2 separate regions of the Homo sapiens genome follow, and region 1 is linked to region 2. Evidence: fine-mapped expression QTL. Tissue or cell type: left ventricle. Region 2 holds a variant in brackets; the other region holds the start of a gene. All regions are shown on one strand. Distances are between the middles of the regions.

Region 1 (2,500 bases), 640 kb before region 2:
CCAGTCAGCAGCAGGGCCCTAGGTCTCCATCCCTGCAAGGGGCTCTAGAGTGTAGGGAACAGATGGAATGTTCACAAGCACCACAGCCCCTGCCACAGTGACTTTTTTAGGACTGGTATCGCAGAGTGTTTACTTAAGGCGGTGGAAGCTAAATTCTTAGCATGTGCTGGAGAGCAATGAAAAAGATATTTACTTTATGAATTAAAGCTGGAGTCAGTGTCAGCCCGAAGGCTGAAGGAAAAAGAGCAACAGATCCAGGGAGCATTCACCTGCCCTGTCTCCAAACAGGTGAGGATGGGGAATAAAGTGAAGGCAGTGCTTTGGTGGGAACTTCAAGGATAGCCTCTGGCTTTTTCCAGGTTTAGAAGCTCATATGAGACAGGGGTGGAGGAAAAGAAGAAAGAAGAATAAGAAGAGAAAGTTGAGGCCCTGGCCCAAGTTAGTGGGAAGGGAAATCCACCCCCATTAAACTCTCTCCCTGGTGGACTGTGGGGTGCACACGTGAGGCCTGCACAGGTGCTGGAACATGGTAGAGGCCCAGGACATACTTCCTGTGAATGAATGATTGAGCGGCTGAATGAATGAGTACCACTAAAAGCCCTCTTTTCTATTCCCAAATGCCACATTGAGCAGAAGGGAGCAATCCTTGCTCAGCAATTGGTAGTCCCTTTGGGTGTGCAAATGAGTCCACAGCCTGCAACAGCAGACAGTCTCTGCCCCCCTTAGAGGCGATTGCAGGGAGGTGGCTGACCGTTGATCACACCCAGAGCTGGTTATGGGAATTTACTCCATGGAAAGACTGCAAAACTGCCTGAAATGTGTTTTGGCATCAGCTACTGACACGTAAGGTTTCCCAATCCTCAACTCTGTCCTGCCAGCTGATGAGGGGAAGGAAAGGGATTACCTAGGGGTATGGGCGACCAATCCTGAGTCCACCAACTGACCACGCCCATCCCCAGCCTTGTGCCTCACCTACCCCCAACCTCCCAGAGGGAGCAGCTATTTAAGGGGAGCAGGAGTGCAGAACAAACAAGACGGCCTGGGGATACAACTCTGGAGTCCTCTGAGAGGTAAAGAGCCAGCGAAGCTGATGTCCTGTCAAGAGCAGAATTCCTGCTCATTCGCTGCCTTTGAGAGTGGCTGTGTTGTGCATGCATGTGCATGATTTGATATGTATGAGAGGGTGTGTGTGCATGAGTGTGTTGAGTGAGTATGTGAGTGTAGTGTAAGAGAGGATGTTGGCACTATCAGGTAAGTACGAGAGTGTGTGTATGTGGGCATAGGTGTGTTAACATGTATGTGTTTGGGAACTTGTGTATGTGGAAGGGGTTAGAAGGCCTAGAAGAGAGAGGTTGATGCTTTCATTCTGGAGGAAAATACTGAGGCCGAGCCTCCATGGGTGCCTTGGAGACTCCAAGCCTTGAATCCAGTGTGGGGATATGCAAGCTATGTCTAGCGAGGGACACATCCTCTGACCTCAGGAACCTCCCAGGTAGTTGGGAGGAACCTGGTTCCAACCTCCCAAGAACTCTCAGTCTGATGAGGTACAGGGGAGGTCTCATTAGTGTATCATGGGGTTCTCCACAGGTCTGAGGGCCTGATGTGTGTGAAACCATTCTGCAGAGCTGGGAACGGGTCAGGAGGTGGTTGTGTGTGTGTGTGTGTGTGTGTGTGTGCATTGCTGGAGGGCACTCCTTGTGTGCTCTGAGTGTGACAGAGGAAGTCACCCTGGACTTAGGTTGGATGGGAGAGCATGTCTGTGTGTCTCAGAGCCACCAAGGAGGAGCAGGGGAGCGACGGCCGGGGCAGAAGTTGAGACCACCCAGCAGAGGAGCTAGGCCAGTCCATCTGCATTTGTCACCCAAGAACTCTTACCATGAAGACCCTCCTACTGTTGGCAGTGATCATGATCTTTGGTAAGAGCTGACCCTGACCTCTGAGCATGGGGGGACAGCCCCAGAAGGGAAGCACTCTTGTCCCTTAGTTTTCTCTCCCATTGCAGTGATCCTCTCTCAGGGGGAAAAAAGAAGCCATTTGGGAGGAAGGAGAGTAGCAGAGAGGGGCAGAGAGGGAGGGCGCAGAACCCCATGCCCCATCACCAGACAACTCCCAAATTTCCTTCCAGGCCTACTGCAGGCCCATGGGAATTTGGTGAATTTCCACAGAATGATCAAGTTGACGACAGGAAAGGAAGCCGCACTCAGTTATGGCTTCTACGGCTGCCACTGTGGCGTGGGTGGCAGAGGATCCCCCAAGGATGCAACGGATCGGTGAGGCCACCTATCCCTCCCTACCCTCCTAGACTCTGGCCCAGGCAGGGCTGGGAGCTGCAAAGACAGTGCCGGTTCCTGATGGGCGCAGAGGTCTCAGGATGGCCTGGCTGGAAAAGCAGCCGGCATGTTGGAACTTCTGCTCTAGACTGTTGCAAAGTCACTGGGTCTCTGCCCAGGGTCCAAGGGGGTGAGACCACAGGCACCAGGCCTCCTGGAGCTGTGGGACA
Region 2 (2,815 bases):
CCGGGCGCTCTCTGGACCCTCCAGGTCCACGGCGGACAGAGCAGGAGGCAGGCCTCTGACATGAGGCCAGAGCCCAGCTGGGGGCAGTAAACGGCTGTGGAGGGAGCACTGGCCTTGGAGTCAGGAGAGTCAGGAGGCCGGGATCTCCCCTAAGCTCTGTCATCCCGAGCTGCATGGCCTCTGGCACTCCTCGCAGAGGCCCTTGTCCAGTCGAGGAGGCACGGTCGGCTGAGATGATGAATCTAGAACACGCTCTGCAGTCCAGCAGCACCGTGTGAGTCGGGCTGTGCTATGCCTTTAGCGGCCAGCCCTCTCACCCACTGCCGTGGTGTAGCTCTCACAGCCCAGCCCAGAGGAGAGGCAGGCTGCAGTCCCGGGGCTGCCCCAGCTCGTGGACTGGGGTGGGCGACAGATTTCAGTCACCTGCTTTACAGTTTTAAAACAGAGGAGGAGTCCTCTTTGGACCCTTGTCTTCTGATCCCCTGCCCACCTGGGGGAGGCTTGGTCTTCGTGACCTGTGACAGGGTTAGAGCCCAGTGGTCCCTGGCGTTAGGCCTGCCACTGGCAGCCACTGCCCGATACACCAAACACACTTTCCCGCCCAGCCAACCTGCACAGTCCCCAGGCAGTGGCTGGGAAGTGGGGGAGAGAAGCCGAAGAGCCTGCGGGTGGTGGTGGCGAGCCCCTGAATACCACGACCACCGCCAGCGTGGACCTCTGCAGCGGCGATACCACTCCACACCCCAGAGCCGCCACGGCATCCCCCCTTCCGCCTCGTGGGTCTCCCTGAATTTCCTCCTCAGCTGTGGCCCCCTGCGTTCCTGGCTTCTCGTCGTTCTCTTCCCTCCCACTCCACTCATCTTGAACACTCTCTGTAGATCTATTGATGCTATCCCTGACAACCAAAAGTTTAAGCAGTTGCAGAGGGAGCTCTCTCAAGTGCTGACCCAGCGCCAGATCTACATCCAGCCTGATAATTAAGCCGATCCAGGTACCCTGCCTGAGAGCCGCGAGACCCTCCCCACTAAAACAGGACTCACCAACCCGCCGAGACCCTGCCGGTCCGGCTGCTGCTCCGCGGCCATTTAAACCACCACTAACCCCCACGT[G/A]TGCTCCCGGTCGGTGCACAGCCACATTCCCGTGTAGCCTCGGCCCCATGTAACACGGCACCTATCACGTGTGTGTGCTTTCCACTCTGGGTGGAGGCTGGGTGTGGGGAAGACGGCTGATTTTTTGGCTTTTGCTTCTGAAGAAGCCCAGGCCAAGGGACGGATGCTGCCTCTCCAGCAGCAGCCACTTGTGTGCACCGGCCTGACTGTCCCCAGGGCAGGGATCTGCCTGCCGTCCACCCCCCCATGCTTCAGAGGAGCCTCTGATGCTGGTGCAGGGATCCCAGAAGCCACATAAGCCTCCCCGCTGCTCAGCGGCACATTGCCTGTCCAGGGCTAGCTGGCTTGGAAGGGGTGACCTCACTCTCTGATCTCTGAGTCTCTGGGGTTGGAGGGCAGAGTCAGGGCTGGACTCCACCCTGGCTGGCCCAGATGCTCTGCTGGAGCTGCCTGGACGCCCAGTGCCGACTCGGCCACAACCAGCATAACCTTCCGCCCCTAACGAGCTGCAGCTGTTCCTTTAAACAGGTTTCGCTAATGGAAAGGAAAATAGTCTTGCTTGTTGGTAATGGCCAAGAACCATGACTTGAGCTTGTGACAGATCCAGATGTAGGGAAGGAGGCAGCATCCCTGGAGAGTAGGAGGGAAACTTGTTTGTAAAAAGAAGGCATTTGGAACCCTGCCAACTGGGGCTGCAGAGCCCAGGTCCAGGGGCTGCGCACTGAAGGCCCACCCCAGAAGGGGTGCAGCAGACTTTCCAAGGTGGAGGTGGGGTCAGGCACTTAGAAAACCAGGTGGAGCTGCTTTTCCGAGGCCGTGGGACTTAAGTGCACCAGTCTGGTCTGTGTGTGCCAACTTAAGGCCCACGACTCGGGTCAGCCTCACAGTGTGGCCATCAGGCATTTCCATCATGGCATTGAGAAAAAACTCTTTTTAAGATACACCGTGATGGTGCAGTTCCCTGGCCGCCCACTGGGGGCGTCCTGGCGTAGAAACCCTGGCAGCCAGGTCTGCTCAAGATGACTCCTCCCTCCCACAGAGTCGAGCACTGTCTCCAAGCGCTGATTCGAGGTTGCTTGGCCGTGACCTTCCCAAGCATTGTCCCTTAAATAAGCCCCCTGCTCCTTCCGCCTTCCACCATTTCACTTCTAACTTCCTGTGTCTAACATGATTCTAGCTCTGGAACTTTCTCCTTCGTGTGATCCAGCCAAGACCTGGCGGGCTTGGCTCTTCCTTCCCAGAAGAGCCAGTGACCACCCAGGCTAGAGGTCCTGTGCGCTGCTGCTTTGCCCGCCGCATCTCCCGCTGGCCATGTTGACCTCCCGCTGTGAGCTTGGCAAGAAGCCCCTGGGGAATCGGCTGAGATTTGGAGCCTGGGGGCCGTGGGGGCTGATGCCTTTGGCCGCCGCAGAGCCAGGGACAGTCCTGGGAAGATACTCAGAAACGTGTATTTCCCCAGCATGAACCAAATGTCTGCGTTTCTCCTGGGAGTTTTTTCAGTTGTATGCAGCTTGCTTCCAGGTCTTGTCTTATGGCACCTGCTGAGTATTTTGAGGGCTCTTCCTGTGACTTGTAGGGATTCGGTAGCCAGAACTCAGTCTGGGTGCTGTTGCTTCTCCTGGGCCCTGCTTCACTTCCATTTGCCCATTTTTGCTTCTGGGGATTGATTTTTCTGATTCTTCCTTCCCATGGCTGGTGTGAATCAA

Which allele goes with the higher level. Positions count from the first base shown, and alleles are read on the strand shown. Sizes are in standard deviations (SD) of each study's normalised expression.
As copies of G replace A in region 2, the expression in left ventricle of the gene that starts at base 1,032 in region 1 goes up (large effect, 0.90 SD a copy in GTEx).

Evidence for each region. PIP is the estimated chance that this variant, and not a neighbour inherited with it, causes the effect.
Region 1: it holds the start of PLA2G2A, and the variant in region 2 is fine-mapped to the expression of PLA2G2A in left ventricle (GTEx, PIP above 0.99).

What each region holds. Positions count from the first base shown.
Region 1 is chr1:19,978,150-19,980,649 of GRCh38, reverse strand. PLA2G2A (phospholipase A2 group IIA) reads left to right here and starts at 1,032. Exons shown (of 5, transcript NM_001395463.1): 1 at 1,032-1,070; 2 at 1,771-1,916; 3 at 2,126-2,270. The coding sequence starts at 1,877. RefSeq lists an enhancer at 1,889-2,388.
Region 2 is chr1:19,340,928-19,343,742 of GRCh38, reverse strand. All of the region lies in intron 8 of CAPZB (capping actin protein of muscle Z-line subunit beta), which reads left to right. Among named protein-coding and RNA genes, the nearest start is that of SLC66A1, 30 kb to the right of the region's middle. RefSeq lists an enhancer at 2,017-2,815. The variant G/A (reference allele first, on the strand shown) is at 1,110.